3 separate regions of the Homo sapiens genome follow, and all the other regions are linked to region 3. The links come from fine-mapping of genetic effects on plasma protein levels. A gene starts in region 3. Each other region holds a variant in brackets. All regions are shown on one strand. Distances are from middle to middle.

Region 1 (7,090 bases), 190 kb after region 3:
TGGTGTGCCTACTGTGTGGGGGCTTCTGTGGGAGAGGACCCTGTCCTCCGCACGTCAGCTGCCGGAGAGTCAGCTGGTGCCAGATGGCCGGCCGGCCTGCCTGCCTCTGGGAGGCCTCAGTGCCTGTTGGATTCCCTGCCATGCAGGGCGCACCCACGGGGTGACGTGTGGGACCCTCCCAAGCGTGCCCGTGCACCCATGCAGCTGTGGCCGCAGTCTCCACTGTTTTGAATATTTGTTGTGTTCCTCCTGGTAGGATGCATGATGTTTTGGGACTGTGCTGGCAGCTCTGTCTTCCAGTTCCTTCCCAAGCAGTGTGGGCTGAGGGTGCCAGCAGAATGCCCGCCCCAGGACACGATCCAGTGGCTCTCGGGATCCCTCCAGGGTTGGCTGAGAATATATCAGTGGCACTGATCTTGTCCCAGAATGCTTGGTCGTCCGGTCGGCTGTGACAAAAGAGAAACATGGTCCGGGTTATACACAGCCTTTCCTTGTCTTTATTTCTAGACACCCTTTATTTCAAGACTCTACTCCACTGGACTTCATGTCCGGTTATTAATAAGCAGTTCTCGTTCTGTCATCGAGCCTGCTCTGGAGTTAACTGTCAAATAATCTGAACTAAAAAGTTAAATCATATAGGCTTTGAAAATTAGCATCCCTAAGTCTCTGTCCTTTTGTATTTGAAAACATTGATCATTTTCCACCCCCTCAGGATGGCCAGTATCCTCTGGATTTATTGCTAACAGTAACTGCTCAGTTTCACACCCATCCTGAAACCATTTGAGGTGATCCTGTAATTGCCATGTGTGTGTATTACTAATCAAGGCTGCTCCCTCTACAAAACACTGAGTGGCCCCCAGGCCGAGGTGCTGCAGAGATGGCCCGTGTGGGAGGGGTAACGCCTGCAAACCCGACCCTGATCACCAATGGAGTGGCCTCACGTGGCCTCCCTGATGGTGGCCCTTGACTGTGGTCAGCACTGGACTGGCCCACCCTATGAGATGTCTCAGGCAGCTTGCAAGATTACATCATGTGATGGCCAATGCTTCTGCTAAACAAGAGGCAGGGAGCCGAATGGACAGGCCTCAGGAAGCACAGCGTGGTGGCCGTCACAGCCTTCTGGGAAGGCTATTTCTGCATCACTGAGGCCCCACAGCCCAGGGTGTTTAGGATGAAGGGCACAGATTTCCAGATGTGAAGAGTGTCAGGTGGGCTAGGGGCAGGAGAAGCATGAGGAGGACCCTGTGCTGGGGATGAGAGGAGAGCGGCCCTGCAGTCAAGGGGCCAGGTGGAGCCACCTTTGGGGATGCGGGGAGAACTTGGTGGCCCTCAGAGACCCCTGCTTGGAGACCCCACCTCCCCCTTGACAAGACTGCGGCCTGTGCTGGGCACAGCTGGCCCAGAGCGAGGGCCACACCCTACTACTGCACCCTCCACGCCTGTCTGTCCTTGCCCACCTCGGTGGCTGCCTCGCCGACCCCCGCCTTGCAGCTGGAGTAGCTGTGCTGATAAAGATGCAGGTGGGAAGCTGGATGGTGAGGTAGCCCATCTGTGGTTTGGGATCCGAGAAGACGGCAAGACCTCAGCTTCATGAGAAGAGAGACCTGAAGATCCATGCTGGGGAAGGGCGAGGATGGAAAGGGGTGCAGGGCGTGGAGCAGGTGCCCAGGTCGGGTACAGAGACAGGCCTGGGACCTGGAGGACCTGCACGCGGGGTCGGGCACCTGCCACACTCTCCCATGTCTTTGAAGCCTCTTGTGGTAGAAGAGAAGGTGCTCATATTTTACCTTCTGTGCCTTAGTATGTAGTTTGGTATTGTGTTAAGTGGACAGAAATCACATACCCCTGCTCACTCTGAGCCTGCATCCTTTGACCGTCACTGTGAACCTCAGATCGAGACACCAGCCTCAGCGGGGGCTGAGATAGGGCATTCCCCATTCCCACTGGCTGCTTGGAGGGCTGTGAGGGACCTGCTGCCTGGAGCACAGGGCCTGTATGGGTGGGTAAGTCCCTGGAGAGACAGGAGGAGGCAGGGGTGTGCAAGCCTCTTGAGGTATGAGGAAGGTGGCCGGGGTCTCGGGAAGCTTGTCTGGCCCTGGCAGGCAGGACAAGGGCCCCCTCCTGCCCATACCTCTACCTTAGGCCCCTTGTCATGACACGTGATACCTGAGGGTGGGGGGCTGTATGGGCATTTGGAATGTGACGGCACAAGCCACAGTGGGTCACTTGTTTCTACAAATGCCTGAGAAGAAAACTATTCTTCTAACTCAGAGAAGTGGGATTTCCCACTGAAAATCAGTGGAAATCACTTATAATGGTCTTTGCAAATTCCTTGCATCTAAGGAAGTGCCTGTGGAGCAGCAGTGGGAGGAAACCATTCAGGCTCGATGGAGAGGGTGACCGCTGCACCCTCATCCCTGGTGTCAGCACACTACCGAGGTGCTCCTGGTTTAAGGACGTTTGTGCACCCACCCGGAGGTATGCATGGAAAGAAAGCACTGCAGCCATTCCCCAGCCAGTGTAGGGGTGGGACACAGTCCCGTGGGGGCCCCGCGGAGGGCCTGGGCAGATGCAGGGCTGCGCACTGCCGTGGTTTCCTGTGTGTCTGCCAGGAGTGAAGACCTGAGCAGCCTCACTGGCCTGGTGTGGAGGGGCCGCCTCCGAGCATGCGGAGAAGTGGTTTGCATGGCTGGAAGTCAATGTTTATCTGTCTTTAGACTCAGTTGAAGACACATTTCTTTCACACATTACCATTTTTAAAACCCATTAAGGTCTGATTTTCCAAGGCGCTGACCCTGACGCTTCTAGAGGGCCTCATCCCGGAAGCTGGTGGGGAGAGCAGGAAAATCTTCCCCGTTGAGTTTTAAACGTCCAGACCTTTGTTGTCTCCTTGTGACCCTTGCAGGAGAGCTCTCGTGGCTTCTGTGCATGTTCGTGTGTGACTCGCCCGGCTGAGGGACTGGCATAAACAAACAGGGATGAGTTTGTAAAACACTTTGTAATCCCTTGAAAAGGAGAAAAATATAAATGAAAATCACTGTTTAACAGTGAAGGCAGGAAGGGAGCTGTTCCTCAGTATAGCTGTGGGTTGTCGTTACGTGAGCAGGAGGGAATTTCACTTTGGATGGATTTGGATTTTCTCTTCATGCTCATGCTCTCTAAATCTTGCAAAAGCACATGGTAAACACACAGCGCATGTGTTTCTGGAGGAAACGCACAGTGTCCATATAGAGCAGGCACTGATTTTGCACTGAAAGAACGTGGATGAGAAGTTCCACGTGTTTAAATAAACTGGCAACAGCGGTCCCAGATAGCTTAGCCGGGCAGCAGTCAGAGGTGCCCTGGCCTGGGGACTGAGCTAAGGTCTCAGAAGGGTCAGCTAGCCAAGCTCTTCACCGGACAACCCCTGAATTAACCAGACACATCACAGATGCAGACTGTTGATTCCAGGGAACCCAGGTGAAAGGCCAAGGAGAGGTGAGGTAGTTGGTGCGGTGCCCCTCCTGGAGTCCCTTCAGGACTATGGCACTACAGTTCTATGTAAGCTGTCACCCAGGACTCATCTTCAGTGGAGTCTGGACTGCAGTCGGGAGGTGACAAACATCCATGGCATGAGGGCAGCAAGAGCCCCTCTCTTGGGAACCAGTTGTGGCCACTATCTGCCCAGTGAACATGGGCTTCAGCCCCGAGCATGGGAGGGCTCCTGGTTGGGCATCTCCCTGGGAGTTCCTTGGTACTGCCTCCTGCAGGGTGAGGAGGGGTGGGGCCTACTTCCAGGCCTCTGGAAGCAGCATCGGCATGTCCTTTCTGGTGTGAACTCCAAATATCTGAGATGGTCTCAGTTAATTTAGAAAGTTTATTTTGCCAAGATTAAGGACATGCGCCTGTGACCCAGCCTCAGGAGGTCCTGATGACA[C/T]GTGCCCCAGGTGGTCGGGGCACCGCTTGGTTTTATAGATTTTAGAGAGACATGATACATCAATTAATATATGTAAGAAGTACATTGGTTCTGTCCAGAAAGGCAGGGACAACTCGAAGCAGGGAAGGGGCTTCCAGGTCACAGGTAGGTGAGAGTCAAGTGGTTGCACCGAGTTTCTGATAAGCCTCTCCAAAGGAGGCAATCAGAGATGTCTTTCTCTCTGTGAGCAGAGGGATGACTGAATACAACGGGAGGCAGGTTGGCCCTGAGCAGTTTCCAGCTTGACTTTCCCCTTTAGATTAGTAATTTGGGGGCCCCAAGGTTCTCCTTTCATGCTGGGAGGAGGGTTTTTCCACACGTCTCAGACCCAACTCTCGGGCTTCTTAACCCAAAAGAACTTCCACGCAGAAGGCAGCGAAAATAGTGCACTTCATTTTCTAAGACATCTAAAGCTGCCACAATGACTGTGAGTTAGGTGAGCTCTATGAATTAGGCTAGGGATTTGCAACCACTTAGCAAGTTCTAAGTAACTGTAAAAGATCCCATAGACTGCAAATTGTGTTTCATTTGGGGACAGATACCCTGTCTTGGGGATTTAAGTGTGTTTACCTGCCCAGAGTTGACACAGACGACTGTCCCTTAGCTTCCTTTCCTCATGCTGGTTTTAAGTGCTTCGAATCGGGATTTTCCTACCCATCTGATGCATTCCATTGAAAATTCAGGAATACACATGTATGTGACTGTTTATTGGCAAGTAATTGTGAAATAGGCCAGAAATCTACCAGCTTCCTTTAATTAATGTAACAAATACTTAGCAAGGACCTCCTGCATTCTAGGGATTGTGGGGGTGGGGGGGGGAGCAACAAACAAAACAGATAAACCCTGCCCTGAGGCGCCCCTTGTCTTGTCTGGGGGTGGAGGTGGGGCAGGCGTGAGACAGAAGAAACAGGTAAAATACAGTTCAAAGTCAGGTGCTGGTCAGTGTCTTGGAGAATTCTAAAGCAGGGAGGAGGGATGGGGTGAGTTTTAAATGTGGTGACTGCTGAAGAAATGGCCTCTGACAGCCTGGAGGAGGAGCTGGAGCTGGGGGGGGGACAGGCTGGCCAGCTCCTCCAACACACACACACACACACACACACACACACACGCACACACACACACACACACACCCCCTCTCCCCCAAGGACCCACAAGGACTGCGGCCTCTTAGCGTGTGTGGAGTCATCACACTGACCCTTAGCAGTGTGGCCTGACTTCATGAGGCCCCCGTTGTCATGGAGATGCTGGGAATGGGAGGATTTGCCACCCTCCAGTGAGGAGCCCCCATCCCATGAGTGCAAAGCCTGAACCGGCCCTTCCCTAATTGGCACCTCTATCCTATTTTCTTTGGCTGAGGAAATTCTCGTAAATGTATATTTAATGTGGTGTTGAGATTGGTAGTTCTCCCCCATCCCCCAAAGATCATCAAATCTCTGGGGGTCTTTCAAAACCTAAAGGTGATCTCCCTGGTCCTATTATGCTGTTTTGTTTTTGCTTCTTTTCTTTTTCTTGAAAGACCTAATTGTGGAGTTTTTTCCCCCTTCTATGAATCCCAAGTAAGGAACTAAAATGGAAGACGGGCTTCTGGCTCCCGCTGCAGCAGATGGGATAATTCTACAGGTGATTGCCCTGGAGGTCTGCAAGGGAGGGAGAGCGGCACCATTAGACTAACACAGCTCTATTATTGACTAATGACGAACAGCGTCGCCTTGCCTTGCCACCTTAAAACAGACACAGGGATTTGCTACTCTATTTGTTTTATAAAATATGCATTGAGAGCAACACCAAAATGCTGAATGACAGGTGACCCTCAGAGCACGCCTGGTATGCACTGCGTTAGCTTGCCAGTATTTCTTAGAGACTTATTTGATTCTAATTCAGTAGGATTTTTAACCCCAACATTTTGAAATCTTGCTTTGAAAGTCCATGTTATTCCCATTAACGTCAGTGAGTTTTTCACATATCTAAATATCTAATATCATGCTTTGAGAATTGAAGCCCAGCCTGCTCTTTAAAAGCAAGGGAGCTCACCACATCCTGGAGTTCTGCAGTGATTTGACATGTCCTGGAAGAAATTATCTTCGCAAGAAAGTAAGTTTAGTTGATTGAAATGAAATTAACACCACATTTCTGTGTCATAATGTATTAACCTGATTGGCTAGCTGGATTCCAGCCTGTTTACAAACATCCTGAAGCCTAGATGGCCCCTTCCTCAGTGTCCTTAACTGCTGTTCTCGCCCTTAGCTCGCGTGCCCAACCCTAAGGCTGAAAACGCCCCCTGTAGGCTACTGTAAGCTGTAGCATTCAAGGCCTCCCAGGTGTCGCTGTAATTTCTTGTATACATTTTAGCTCCATCTGTGGCATAGGTACCATTCAATGTTATCTTAATACACTAGCTTTGGATTTTGTGGCTGCAACAATAACAAAAAAAAATCCTTGGTTCTGATGACTTCATGTTGTTTCAGAAGATACTCAAGGCCGGGTGCAGTGGCTCACACCTGTAATCCCAACACTTTGGGAGGCCGAGGCAGGTGGATTACCTAAGGTCAGGAGTTCGAGACCAGCCTGGCCAACACAGTGAAACCCCATCTCTACTAAAAATACAAAACTTACCTGGGCATGGTGGTGCACACCCGTAGTCTCAGCTACTCGGGAGGCTGAGGCAGGAGAATTGCTTGAACCTGGGAGGCGGAGGTTGCAGTGAGCCAAGATCGCACCACTGCGCTCCAGCCTGGGTGGCAGAGCGAGACTCCCTGTGTGGAAAAAAAAAAAAAAGATACTCAGATGTAGCTGTCTCTGCCTGGGTTGTTTTCTAAATGCGTTTGGCTGGAGATAGAACAGATCCTGCCTCTATCCACGGCGTAAGGGAGTTAGCTTCATGGCAAGCTCTCTGGAGAACACAGGCCATTGTACCTGCTCATGAGAACAGAAGTGAAAGTCACACAGCATGCATATTAGTTCCGAGGCTACTGGCATTATTATTTAATGATGAGTTAGTGCAAATTGAGGGGTGAGGAAGTAGCATGTACAAAGGCCCTGAAGATGAATGACTGTGTGAAATTTTGAAGAGCAGTTTAGCCCGAAAATATTCCATGAGTAGCTGCCAGGAGAGCTTTTCTGGAACAGTATTAAACT
Region 2 (7,090 bases), 240 kb after region 3:
TGGCTCCTTCCTTAAAACCGTCAGGATTTGTGTGCTTGGAAACCTCTGACCACCCTCCTGCTCCACCGTGAAAAACAGTGTATGGGGGCCCCTATGTGCATCTCACCCAAAAAGGTCCATTTTTAGAAAGACCCGAGGATCTCGGCAGAGACTTTTACACCCACAAAATGCTCCAGCCCAGAGACCCAGCCTCCAGCACAGGACAGCGTGTGAGACTGGCCCGAGGTCTTCCGTCGCCGCCCCTGCTGTCGGATGACATGCACATTTCTGCACCTGCAGGACCTCAAAGCGAAGTAACCCTGGACACACCCTTCACTGGGTCTCTTTCCCCCACATCTCCCCCAACAATGGAAGGCAAGCACCGCTCCACACGAAAATAACAACACGGGTGCAGTTCTGTGCCTCTCCTTAGCTTCTCCCTGCCGCCCCGTGGGCTTGGTCATGGTGTCACCACGCACTGTAGATGTCGCAGACGCAGGCCCATGGCCGTGTGTGCCCCTGGGCATGTCTGCTGTCTTCTGGGGAAATGGAAACGCCACCATAGGCATTTACTCAGGCAGAAGCTCCAGAACTTTAGATCCCAGCTTTGCCGTTTTTAATTGTCTCTTGTTAAAATGTGAGTATCCCAGATGGAATGCAAAAGAGGTTCGTGCTGCTGAGGCCCTGGTTTCTTTTCTGAATGGATGTGCCAGGGTATTTCCGCCCACAGTACACTTTAAGCCAAAGTAATTTGTATCATCTTTAACACAAACCCAAAACACGAAAGGCTGTGTTTGTTTAACTAGACGTGTAAGCTATAGTTATCTTTATTTCCGCTTTAACTGCATAAGAGAGGAAACCTTTTTAACTATAAGGAAGGTGTTCGGCTTCCTTTTATCTCTTGCCTCATTATGTACTTTTGACTTTATTCAGATTTGTACAAGCTTGGTTTTTACCTCACAGGAAAAGCGAGAACTAATCGCTCCAGAGATCATCTGAGCTCTTTGTGTGAAGGTGTTTTAAGAAGTTGTGACTACATCTTCTTTTCTAAAACAGCCTCCAATTCTGTGATACAAAGTGAAATGCCAGTTGTTTGCAGCTCCGGGGCTGTGGTCCTCCTGGACACCAGCGGTAGCAACAGGCCCCATCCACACAGGGCTGGGGAGACAGGTCCCCTTCTGCACGGGGCCCAGGAGACAGGCCCTCATTCATACAAGGCCAGGGAGACCAGCAGAATCAGCACGGGGCCAGGGCAACAGCCCCATCCACACAGGGCCGGGCAGACAGGCTGAATCCGCACAGAGCTGGGGTTGGAGCTGAGAGTCATCCCTGACCCCAGCTTCATGGTCCTCCAGCTCTTCCCTGCACCATTGCCATGTTCTTACTGCTGCAGCCCTGCGTCAGGGCAGCTGCGGTGCCTTCTGCCTCTTGCCAGGGGCCCCCAGCCCCCACCAGTCACACTGTGGGCCGCACTCATAGGACAAAGTGCCCTTCCCGCCCTGACACGCACAGTCCTTGCCCACCTTTCTGTGAGTCTCAGTCCCCGAGGCCTCCACTCTGCGTCTACGTTCACACTGTCTGTCCTACGTCCGGGATGGCTCTGTTGCCTCCTCTCCATGGACTGGCCGTGCATACCTTGTGTGGACAGAGTTGGGACGGTGCTCCCGGCTGCATCGGCCGCCTGTGCTGGGCCACATGTCCAGGCAAGTGAAGCCTTCACTGGGACCCTCCCAGAGCAGCATGGGTGTGTCGAGGAGAAACATTCTGTAGATCTCAGCGCACGCCCCCCAAGGCAGCCCAGGAAGGAAGGGTGAAGGGCCCGCGGGAGCTGTGCGTCCACAGCATCCACAGTGCAGTGACGTTTCCCACCTTTTCACAGAAGCCTGAGGAGCAGCACTGTCTGCAGAAGGAAACTAGAAAACTTCCGTGCTCCAAGCCTGGGAAGTCCCGGGGAAGCATGCCGTTTGTCTGGGGCCTCGAGAGGCAGGGAAGGAAGGAAGGGAGTCACCTGAAGAAATCGGACCCAGGGCCAGGGCTTCCCACGGGGGTCCACAGCACTTGAAATCACAACGGGATGTGTCATGCACTCCACAGCCCCAGGTGGCAGCGGGAGACCTCCCCTTCAGGGCCATGTCCTCAGTCCGTGGAACACAGCCCCAGAAAATCCACCCCTGCTGGAGATGGGGAATCCTTTCCATGAGGGCCCACCAGGTCGAAGCCACAGATGAATGAACACCCCAAACAGAAGCAGCCACAAAACAGTCTGAAGCGACTCCCAGAGGTACAGGTTCAAACTGCAGGAAATCAAAGGGAGGAGAGTGTCCAGAAAGAACCAAGAGGGCCGCGCAGTAGCTCACACCTTTAATCCCAGCAGTTTGGGGGGCCCACGCGGGCGGATCACCTGAGGTCAGGAGTTCGAGACCAGCCTGGCCAACGTGATGAAGCCAACATGGAGAAACCCCATCTCTACTAAAGATACAAAAAGTTAGCTGGCCGTGGTGGCAGTCGCCTGTAATCCCAGCTACTAGGGAAGATGAGGCAGAAGAATCACTTGAACCCGGGATATGGAGGTTGCAGTGAGCCAAGATCGAGCCATTGTACTCCAGCCACGGCAACAAGAGCAAAACTCCGTCTCAAAACAAACAAACAAACACCAGGAAGGTTTGAGAAAGAACCAAGTAGACACAGGCACACGAGGCACAGGGCTGCCCCCGAGAGGACAGACTCACCGATGAAGGAAACACAGAGTAGGCCCTCTGGAGCGTGGGAATCAGGGGACTGCAGGTAAACCCTGAGGAATCCCCTGAACACAGCACACGGCCATGGAGGAGGCAGAACGCGTGGATGTGGCCTTGCGTTGTTGGACTCGGGGTGGGGTGGGCCGTGTGGTGCAGTCTAATGACTGTGTCGATATTTCTGGGAACTGTTTTCAATAGTGAGTGCTTGATGATTTAGGTGCAGCCGTGCCATCTGTAAGTCTTACAAAGGGACACTGTCACTTGGGTTGCCTTGCGCTGTGATGCAGACTCTCAGAACACACGTCCTGGGAGGCCTGAAGGTGGAGAGTGGTTGCGGGGCCTCGGTGCGTCCTTGCCTCACCAGTCCCCCTTTCTGCTGCACAGCTAGTTGAGACGTGTGTGCCCATGAAGCAGCCACAGGTGTTTGCCCGTTTAGATGCAGTAGGTGTTTGCTTTTCCGATGTGTGGAGGCAGGGCCCAGAGGTTTACTAAGCCCCTGTTCTCACTTTTGCAGTGCCGTGGAGGTCCCAGCCCCCGCTGCGGTTCTCGGAGGTCCGGAGCCCCTGATGCAGTGCACAGCCTGGCTGAATGCCTATTTCCACCAGCCCGAGGCTATCGAAGAGTTCCCCGTGCCGGCT[C/T]TTCACCATCCCGTTTTCCAGCAAGGTCGGTAACTAAGCCATCTGCGGTGTTTCCTTTGGGGAGCTTGACTTATTAACGATCGCTGACATCACAGTTCATTTTATTGAGTATACCAACTTGGTATTTTTACATCAGCTAAACAGAGGCAGCGTTTGGCCGAGCTGGAGGGACGGGGGTTCGCCGCCTCCACCCACTCCAACACTTGTGTTAGTTTTGGCACAGGGTTGCATAATTCTTGGCAAAGGCAATAAAAATGAAGCATGCAGATCGACTCTTGACTCTCGCTGGCTGAAAGGTTTAAATAGGAACACATCTGAATGGCAGTAAATTTTTCAATAAGCTTATTGTGAACTTCAACTATCTGCTTGCCAACAGCACAGAAAACGAGACTTGTGCGTGGACATTTAGCTATTTCCATACACTCTGTTGGTGACACTTACATCATAGCAGGTAGCAGCATTGGAGCTTCTCAAATAATTTTACATTTAATTTCTCAAACGTACCAGAGTTAGACATATTCTTTCTTAAGAGATGACTTGAGAACTTACCTGTATGTAGCCTGCTTAAGGCTTGTGATAATCTAAAACATTTCCCAGACATTTCTTTTAAAGCTTGTGTTTGGCTCTGCTCAATACAGAAATTAATTACAGCAACTAAAATCATTCCAGACACATGCCAGAAATTTATTTTGCATAGTGAGTTTTTCATAATCATTTTTGTGTATAAATGAACATATATTCATATATGATGTATATATGGAGTTGTACACTTATATATCCTTAAAGGGAAAAATTACCTTGAGATTTTAGATGTGGTGAATTTAAAGCAATTTTGAATTTCAGATCAGATTTGCTGGGTAAGCTTAACAGTATTCTAATTGCTGCGGTGCTTCTCAGCACAAAACAAACTTGAAAATGGAGAGAACTTTTCAAGGGAAGCAGGTAAAGAAACCCCTGAAGGTTGGGCTAATACCTGAGTTCACTAACCAAGTCAGACAGGCGAACATATGAAGTCATGAGCACGTTTTGTGCATAATGAACTGAAGCTGTGCAGCTATAATGAACCAGGCACCTTGCTGTCCTCTGAATCATACAGAACTGTCTCCAGAAGGGTTCAGTGGGGATCTCTAGGATGGGCAGATAGGAAGCTAGAGTGGGTGGGCCTTTACATGGAACCACAAACGTCCAAGAAACCTCTCATCATCTCTGCCCACCAATGGGCTGCTGCCAGGACAAAGGCACTACCAAAGCCTCCTGGGCTGCCGCCAGCTGGGGGCCACCTCTCCCCAGCGCCACAAGCCAGTGAGCCAATTAGACGGTGTGGGGGACCTTGCTCACTGTGCACCTGATGGGCCGGGCACAGGGCAGGATGTTGCTGAATGGCCCAAGGAAGTCAGAGATTGGTTTTGTTTATTAAAGTTGGGGCTTGGGGATCTTAGAGTGGTGAACTCTTCTCTATACGATCTCTTTTTGGGGGTTCGCCTGCCAGGAGGAGCAAGGCTGAAGAGCTGTCCAGAGGCTTTTCTTCTCCTTAAGCCTGTGAAATATGTGAGCTGAAATGTAAGGTCTCAGGACAGAAAAGTTCTCTTACAAAACCAGGGCAGGAGGTATCTGCATAATCATATGGAGGCTGGGAGAATGAGCCTGCAAACCCCTGAAGTTTACCTAAGGTTTGTTGGGCAACTTCATGAAAAACATAGGGGCAAAAGTTCCATGAAAATCGTTAGTTTTCTCCAAGTCATATGGTGGCCCTGGCCATGGAGCTAGACCCTGCTGGCCTGGTCTCACCAGGGTCCAGAGAGTGGTGTGCTCTCAGGCAGGCCAGGAAGAACCGGAGGAGGAGGCCTCCGCAGCTGCTGACAGGAGCTCCAGGGCAGGAGTGGCCAGCAAGGAAGGTGGCACCGGAAATAATCAGACACTCTCCAAACCACCCCTGCAAGCACTGAACCCCCGCTGAGCCTTTTCCCCCTCACTTCTGCCCATGGCAGTGTTTGCTGCTCCTAGAGCCGAGGACAGGCGGGCCCCTGGGGCTTCTCAGTCAAGTCCCTAGTGCTTAAGCAGAGTTGGGATTGGCCACACCTACCCCTGCCTCCCTGGCTTTCAGCCCACGCCAGGCCAGGCTGCTTCCTGGGCTGGCAGGTCATGATAGGTCTTGGTGACCAGGAAGACCTCAGAGTAGCCGCCAGGATACTGGTAAAGGCTGTCTGGCTCCCCCGTGGCCCTGCCCCTCTTGGAAAGCCCTACAGTGCGGGTGGATACCTCTAGCTGGGACGAGGTCCACTCCAGCCAAGTTTTGGGATGGTAGTGCGACAGCCGCTCACATCCTTCTCTCTTGGTGTTCTAGAACTCTGAGGCTGGCTGCAGACCCAGGGTGCTGAGCTCAGGGCCTTCTCTCGAGGGTAGGGGCTGGAGTCCCCTGGGCCAGGCCTGCCTGCGGATGGTTAGTGGTTGCTGTGGGGGCTGGGATTCCCCACCACAGCATGTGTAAGCCAGGTTTTTAACATTTAGCTCAATCGTTTACTCCTGGGCAGGGGCCAGGTGTATGGATTTTACTGTTTGAAGAAGGGGAGGTGGATGGTGGATGGTTGCTAACAGGGAGTTAATTGGTTCTCCCAGATGTGGATACGCCCCTCTCTGTCTGGCATGAGTTTGGTTTGCTCTCTGTCCAGGTTGTTATCTTGTAACATCAGTGAAATCAACAGTGAGGGGGCAGGTCTTCTAGAGGAAAAGTCTTTTGACATCTCAGAGCCGCCTGGAAGCTGTGGAGTAACAGAAATCAACCTGCTTTGCAGACTGAGAGGAGCGGGTCCATTGTAACATGGAATGAACATTTCCTTGACCAATTCCTTTTTCTGCACATTTTAATTTCTGTATATGTTTAACATACTTTTGCATATCATTTTTCACCATAGTCTCACTTCTGAGATTGAGACCAGGTTTATCTATTTCAACCTGGTTTGTCTATGTCAACATTTTTAAAAATGTGATTGTATTTGAGCTCATCCTTGAGTTCCAGCACATTGACCATTTCTTTCTGAAGGCCTGGCTGGTAAAACTTCTGACTGCGCAGTACCAAGCCCTCATCCCTTCCTCAGGCCTGTCCTGCTGCTGAAAGACCCTCTCTCCTGCACACGGCCTCTTCGCGGTACCACCTCACCTTCCAGGATTCCTCTCTGGAACGAACATGCTGTTTGTGATTTGCTTTTTAAGGCTAACCACAAAAATATGCATTACGTTGAACCATATGAAATTGCTATTTTTTAGGTTAAAACTTATCAAATACCAGAAATTTCAGATGGTTCAACTTCTTATCTTGGGGAATTTCCAAAGACAGGTTAGTAGCTAGGTAGCTGTTGAAGTATTTCTGCCAAGGGACAGTGAAGCTGCCTTTCCCGACCGGGTGTCCGGAGGTCCCCGGGGCTGCCTCATTGTGAGGTTGGGACAGGTGGGATTTCCCAGTGGGAGGGCGCTGAGGCTCTGGAAGGAAGCCTCATTGTTCTGCTGAAGGGATTAAGAGGAAAGCTGAGCTGTCCAGTGAAGCATATTCTAATTTCTCGTTCAAGTGTTGTTTTAGTCAGGTCATTTCCTAAAATAAAATTAGTCAAAGTTTTCTTGGTTTGGGGTTTTTTGGCTTTTTTGGTTTGCTATTCTGGTTTTTTTAAAGTGTCAACAAAATCCATTTTCTAGCTACTGTGTGACCGAGGGCTAGCATCTTGTCGTACAACGTAGCTTTTT
Region 3 (7,090 bases):
AGGGGCTACACTGCACACTGGGGCTCTTGAAAAGGGCTTGCTGGGCTGGGCACGGTGGCTCACGCCTGTAATCCTGACACTTTGGTAGGCCGAGGTGGGTGGATCACCTGAGGTCAGGTGTTCAAGATCAGCCTGGCCAATATGGTGAAACCCCGTCTCTACTAAAAATACAGAAAAATTAGCTGGGCATGGTGGTGTGCACCTGTAATCCCAGCTACTCAGGAGGCTGAGGCAGGAGAATCACTTGAACCCGGGAGGCAGAGGTTCCAGTGAGCCAAGATGGCACCATTGTACTTCAGCCTAGGCGACAGAGAGAGACTCCAATTCAAAAAAAGAAAAAGAGAAAAAAAAAAAAAAGAAAAAAAAGAAAGGGCTTCCTGCAGGGACAGTCAGTGCAGGAAAGGGCCTCTTTCGTACTCCCACTGCCCCTACGCATCTCCTGGGTAGAGGTCGCTGCTCCAGAGAGCAAACTATTTCCTCATCTGTGTGCCATTCCACTACAAGCCCCACAGGGGCCTGCAACGAGTCCCATAAATCCATCTCCAGGCCCTGCACCCACAAACTGGCAAAGGAAGTTTCAGGAAAAGTCTTTCTAATAGGAGTCTGTGGGCTGCCTCTGGTTCGTTTCTTTAGGAATTCTCCTCCATGCCCTTCTTGACACAAAAGGGCCTGAAGGGTTCCAGTTCTCAACAGGAGCTCCCAGGGGCTCCTGGCAGGAGGATGTTCTGCCTCTTTGGAGGAAAGCAAGAGCTAAGGAGCCCCTCCTGTTTTAGTTGCACCTCCATCCCCTTTCTCCACCCTGCACCATTCCCTTACCCTCTATGTGAGGCAAAGCCTGAAGTCCCTCCTTCCCGCCCTCTCTCCTGCCCACTAGTAGATTACACTCCCTGCTGCAGTTACACCATGATGCCTCTGCCATGCTGACAACTAGTGTCACACAGGAGCGTAATCAGAAGCACCTGGCATTCAACCCCGGTACCGATGGCCCCCACCTTTTCATTTCAGGCTTCTTCCTCCAGAGTGCTTGAGGCTCCCTGGCCTCCTGGCCTCTCCCAGGTCCAAGGCGCTGACTCCAGCTCTTGGCTCCAACATTTACAGGAACACTGGGACTAAGAAAATCAATTGTGTTAATCAGCAAAACCCTCCACTTGAGATGCTATCCTAAAAGCAAACTATATGTAAAACACTTAACGTGGGGAGCTCTGTAATATGTTTCTTTTGTTACACGACCATCACACATTTGTCCGGAGTTTGGGGCTTTCAAACCACATAAGGTTTTATGTGATCGTTATAAAATCCCTTCATTTCCCAAAGGTAGGGTAGTAAGGATTAAGTTTGACTACTGAAGGCAGCTTTGTTGTAAGTGGTCTCTAATGTCACAAAAGTAGCTTGGGAAGACAGGCTTATTAAACAAATTTCTTGGGTTGCAAATCATTAGAAGCAATCGCATGTCATGTTCATTTGCTTAACCCGAAAGGTATCCATTTGGATGTTTAAAGAAACTATGCAGATTAACATTGTTCCCAGTGCCCACAAGAAAGCTGGCTGATCTTAAAGGAAATCCAGGGAGCTCCTTGAGGAAGTCGGACTGCAGTTGAGCATACCCTTTTGTGGTTTTCCCACCTCTTTTGTAAAAAGTTCTTCATAGGAATCTGTGTCTGGAGGAAAAGGGGTTGTGATTTGTTAATCTGAAGATGGGAGACCTCAAAGGAATCTCACCCAACCAGTCCTGCACTGTCATCCTATGAACAGAGAAGTCAGGTGGTTGCTCAGTGAGGGGCAGGGCTGGCACCACATCCGAGCCTCCCTGTCCTGTGTTCCTTACTCTTCAGTGGACCCGGCGACCTCCCGGCTTTGGAGCCATCCTGTGTTCCTTTAACAGTAGGACGAACACACAGGCGATGATGAGATTGTAATGGGACAAGGGGGAGAGGCGTGGGGAGCTCTTGATGAAAACTTGGGTTTTTGAAATTACCATGATGAAGGGAGGAGCTTGCACCAGCAGGTGTAAGGAGTGTGAGTTTGAGTTCTGCTCATCAGACAGCCTAAGCAGTCACATCCTTGAATCCTGGTCTTTTGCAGGCCAGTCCTTGGTCAGGTGGTGGCCTTTTTCCTCTTTCCCCTCTGCACTGAGACCCTTATTTGGCTCCTGATCCTGGAGCCCCTGACACAGTCCTTACCACTGAAGTAGCTGTGGCCCTTCACATAGTTCTTCCCACCACGCCAGCAAGGGGACTGAGTTCTTTCAGTACAGCCAGGGCCAGGTCCACACATCTCCCTGGGAAGCCAGCACTTTCTCTCGTGGACCGCCTCCCCATTCCCACAGGGCCCTCCTAAAGGGCCTTTGGATGACCACATTGGCCTTTCTTTCCTAGGGTGGGGAATTAGAGATGCTAAGACTGGCCAGTCTCTTTTTCTTAAGAGTTTAGGGATTCGTCTTAAAATATTATTCAGATAAACGTATGAGTCATGTGTTAACTGCAAAACTACTTAACAGCACACTTGTTAGAATATCAGTCGGCACTCTGATTCCATTTCGGCATTGTTTTTCCTTTGGTTCTATTAAGATCCCGGTTCTAACTGGGTCCTGGTAGTAACAGGCTGTAAGTGGCCAGGTGTATAGCATTATTTCTTAGTAGTGTGGTGTGGTGCTGGTGGTTTATTTTCCCTATGCACACATGCCCTAATATGGAAGGATAGTTTGTACACACGTAGGGTACGTTATCATGAGACTCCTTTACAGAGTATGAAACTGAGGATTAGAGAAGTCAGACGAGTTTCCCGAAGTCTTATAGAAGGCTAATGGAAAAAACCAGAGCCAAGGGCAAACATGTTTCATCTGTCCTTCCACATTAGTTTAAATGTGAATGGCTGCTTGGAACACAGTGTTGAGAAGGATTCCGAGGCTGTGTCCAGGTTCAGTGGGGAAAAAGTGCCTTGATTTGACCATTATATCGTGTACTCAGGGCCTAGTTTATTTCCCACAAGCAGCTATTTAAAACATGTCTCATCCAAGGCAGGGTCGGGGTGGGGAACCTCAGAGGATCAATGATGCAGCCTGTATTGTCACCAGGGCTCATCCCAAAGCAAATCCTGCTGAAGTTCTCCTCTGAACAACCCTTATCACTCATGCTAATATGTTGGATCCTGCAAGTCACAAATACGAAGGTATGAGCATTGGCCGAATCCCAACAGGGAAACTTCACCGGGAAGGTGAAGACCCCTTTCCATTAAGATAACAAACAGAACCTAGAAGGCCCGTAGCATGGTGGCTTAGAACATGTGGGCCTTGGATGGGATCCTGCCAAGGGGTGTGTGACCTCTCCGAAGCCTCCAGGGATGATACTACTCCCTGGGGTGCTTATGCCAACCACGTTAGAGACAATGGTTTCTGTACCCATTGCCTGGGGCTGCCATAATAAAGTGCCACACACTGAGTGGCTTAAAACAACAGAAACCTATTGTCTCACACTTCCGGGGGCCAGAAGTTTGAAACCCAGGTGTGTTAGGATCCTGCTCCCTCTGAAGGCTCCAGGGAAGAGTGTCCTCTGCTCCCTCCGAAGGCTCCAGGGAAGGGTCTGTCCTCTTAGGCTTCTGGTGGCTTGCAGGTGCAGCCCTCCAATCCTCCTCCCCAAGCGGCCTTCTGCCTATAAGGACACGAGTCATACTGGATGAGGGGCCCACTAATTGATGGCTTCTGTAAAGTCCCCATCTCCAAATAAGGTCACATTGTGAGGTACTGGGAGTTAGGACTCCAACATAGCTTCTCTGGTGGACACAATTCAACTCCTAATAACGTCCACACAACCCCAAGCAGGGCCTGGCACCCTGTGTGCTCTCTGGAGAGCGGCTGAGTCAGGCTCTGGCAGTGTCTAGGCCATCGGTGACTGCAGCCCCTGGACGGCATCGCCCACCACAGGCCCTGGAGGCTGCCCCCACGGCCCCCTGACAGGGTCTCTGCTGGTCTGGGGGTCCCTGACTAGGGGAGCGGCACCAGGAGGGGAGAGACTCGCGCTCCGGGCTCAGCGTAGCCGCCCCGAGCAGGACCGGGATTCTCACTAAGCGGGCGCCGTCCTACGACCCCCGCGCGCTTTCAGGACCACTCGGGCACGTGGCAGGTCGCTTGCACGCCCGCGGACTATCCCTGTGACAGGAAAAGGTACGGGCCATTTGGCAAACTAAGGCACAGAGCCTCAGGCGGAAGCTGGGAAGGCGCCGCCCGGCTTGTACCGGCCGAAGGGCCATCCGGGTCAGGCGCACAGGGCAGCGGCGCTGCCGGAGGACCAGGGCCGGCGTGCCGGCGTCCAGCGAGGATGCGCAGACTGCCTCAGGCCCGGCGCCGCCGCACAGGGCATGCGCCGACCCGGTCGGGCGGGAACACCCCGCCCCTCCCGGGCTCCGCCCCAGCTCCGCCCCCGCGCGCCCCGGCCCCGCCCCCGCGCGCTCTCTTGCTTTTCTCAGGTCCTCGGCTCCGCCCCGCTCTAGACCCCGCCCCACGCCGCCATCCCCGTGCCCCTCGGCCCCGCCCCCGCGCCCCGGATATGCTGGGACAGCCCGCGCCCCTAGAACGCTTTGCGTCCCGACGCCCGCAGGTCCTCGCGGTGCGCACCGTTTGCGACTTGGTGAGTGTCTGGGTCGCCTCGCTCCCGGAAGAGTGCGGAGCTCTCCCTCGGGACGGTGGCAGCCTCGAGTGGTCCTGCAGGCGCCCTCACTTCGCCGTCGGGTGTGGGGCCGCCCTGACCCCCACCCATCCCGGGCGAGCTCCAGGTGCGCCCCAAGTGCCTCCCAGGTGTTGCCCAGCCTTTCCCCGGGCCTGGGGTTCCTGGACTAGGCTGCGCTGCAGTGACTGTGGACTGGCGTGTGGCGGGGGTCGTGGCAGCCCCTGCCTTACCTCTAGGTGCCAGCCCCAGGCCCGGGCCCCGGGTTCTTCCTACCCTTCCATGCTGCCAGCTTTCCCTCCGCCAGCTGCTCCAGGAAGCTTCCAGAAGCCCCTGCGCGGGCCTTGGCTTGCAGCAACCCTTTAGCATACTTAGGCAGAGTCCCATATTTCCTTCCTGCTGGAGGCCAAGTTCTAGGGGCCTTCTGGTTACTATGGCTGGTGTTTGTGTACATCATACCCTAACTGTATTCATCAACACTTAGAGTAAGCAAGGCTCGCTGGAGAGCCACACACACTGGGCACCGTAATGTCGGTTATAACACCGCAGAGGAGTTCTGAACTATGTATTTCGCACTCCTGGGTTCATCATCTCCTGAAATCTCAGGGTGGTGTTTGCTCTCAGTTGCTTCAGCTGAGTAGCTGGCTTTCTGTCCTGGAAAGCAGACTTTGTACATGTGTGTGCAACCTATGCCTGCTGAGATCATCATCAGACAGGGAAGCGGCTTGGTCCAGAGAGCTGTTCTCAGTAGAATGTTAAGCACAGAGAGCTGAGAATTAGACTGGTTATTTACATAGACATCCAAATAGAAACCTATAGAGTATCTGTTAAGTCAGGCTCTCCCGTCATCTCCCCCATCCCTGGGCAGGTGTCTAGGAGATGGTTTTGTTATTTTCAGGGCCCTCTCAATGGCTAAAACACTCTGGGAGATGAACAAGATTTTAAAAACCCAAAGCTTAGCGCACCTGGTGGGTGGGGGTGTGAAAACTTTGAAGGAAACCGCGTCAAGAGCCTGGCTGATTGTTAATATCACGTTAACTCAGAGGGCCAGGATACTTGCCCAGACCCGGAGTCTGCCTGCAAGTAGCAGAGGAGAGCTGGCCTTGCTCTGCCGCGTGTCTTTCTTCCTGGGCCCTCTGTCTCGGGTTGGAATTTGAATAGTGGAGTAGTGTCTGCCACAGTCAGGGGCCTGGATGAAGTAGACCACCAGTACGGAGCTATACTCAGGTACTTTTCAATGTATATATCTTCATTAAAAAAAAAAAATCTGGGCCAGGCACAGTGGGTCACGCCTGTAATCTCAGCACTTTGGGAGGCCGAGGTGGGTGGATCACCTGAAGTCAGGAGTTTGAGACCAGCCTGGCCAACATGGTGAAACCCAGTTTCTACTAAAAACACAAAAATTATCCAGGCGTGGTGGTGCATGCTGGTAATCCCAGTTACTTGGGAGACTGAGGCAGGAGAATTGCTTGAACCTGGGAGGCGGAGGTTGCAGTGAGCCGAGATTGCGCCATTGCACTCCAACCTGGGCGACGAGAGTGAAACTGTCCTGAAGGGGAAACAAAAAAATCTGTATCAAAATAAGGATTTAACTAATAGTATTAGGCACTACTTTAAAAAGGCTTTGCTGTTAGTAAGGTTGAAAGAAATAGAGCCCTAGGTATACATTGGGTAGCACCTTGTTCAGCTGCTCAGATTCTTGAACCTTGTTGAGGTCTTACTTTGATATCACCTGGGCCTTACTTTTCGTTGTTTGGGTTTCCTCCCCAGGTGTCTCAATCAGGGCCTCCTCTGTCCTTTTGCAGGGAAGAAGGGGGTAGGAAGGGCCTGAAAAAGAACTTGCCTTCCCCATTGCCCCCTCAGAGTTTGTTCCTCTCCAGTCCTCTTCCCACCCTTTCTTAGGACACCAAAACCCTGACTCTTTCAGTATTTTATAATAAAATAAAGTTACTAAATTGTCTGTTCTGTTTTGCAGAGGACACACATTTAGGAGCCAGTGATTCAGACCTTCCATTTTTCTTTTTGGTGCTAATGCTCTTTTCAGTATATTCTCTTTGATAGAAAAAAAATGGAGGCAAAACTGAATTTTCTGCATTATCTTTTCCTTTAGCATTATTCTTGTTTCTGCACTTCATTCTGACCCCCTTCCCCAGCATAAAGTTCCATGTCCAGATCCACTTGCCCTGAGATTTTTGACTTCCGTTTGGGACTCTAGTCCCTCCAGGGGACACATTGAGCCTCCCAGACCCTGCAGGGCCCTGTGCTCATTCGGCTCTTGGGCTGTTGCTACGGTCCTTCCTGACCCTCTGTTTCCTGGGACAAGTAGTTTTTAATGCAGCTACTTTCTGAAAGAGCTGGGGTCTTACCGCAGAATATTATTTTATTATTTTTAGAGACAAGGTCTTGGTCTTTCGCCCAGGCTGGAGTGCAGT

What was found. PIP is the posterior inclusion probability: the model's chance that the variant is causal. The UK Biobank Pharma Proteomics Project read protein levels with antibody pairs (Olink). The fine-mapping took linkage between variants from a reference panel, not from the people measured, so its PIPs are less certain.
Region 1: its variant is fine-mapped to the plasma level of the MGMT protein (UK Biobank, PIP 0.95).
Region 2: its variant is fine-mapped to the plasma level of the MGMT protein (UK Biobank, PIP above 0.99). The variant lies in the coding sequence of MGMT. If it changes the protein, the assay may bind it differently, which can mimic a change of level.

What each region holds. Positions count from the first base shown.
Region 1 is chr10:129,652,644-129,659,733 of GRCh38, forward strand. The region is part of intron 2 of MGMT (O-6-methylguanine-DNA methyltransferase); the gene reads left to right. Among named protein-coding and RNA genes, the nearest start is that of MIR4297, 190 kb to the right of the region's middle. The variant C/T (reference allele first, on the strand shown) is at 3,917.
Region 2 is chr10:129,704,664-129,711,753 of GRCh38, forward strand. MGMT (O-6-methylguanine-DNA methyltransferase) reads left to right here. Exons shown (of 5, transcript NM_002412.5): 3 at 3,232-3,380. It overlaps LOC105378560 (a long non-coding RNA gene), which reads left to right and starts at 3,387. Exons shown (of 2, transcript XR_946467.3): 1 at 3,387-7,090. RefSeq lists an enhancer at 6,588-7,090. The variant C/T (reference allele first, on the strand shown) is at 3,356.
Region 3 is chr10:129,462,675-129,469,764 of GRCh38, forward strand. MGMT (O-6-methylguanine-DNA methyltransferase) reads left to right here and starts at 4,567. Exons shown (of 5, transcript NM_002412.5): 1 at 4,567-4,622. RefSeq lists silencers at 4,207-4,646, 4,667-4,866 and an enhancer at 4,433-5,355.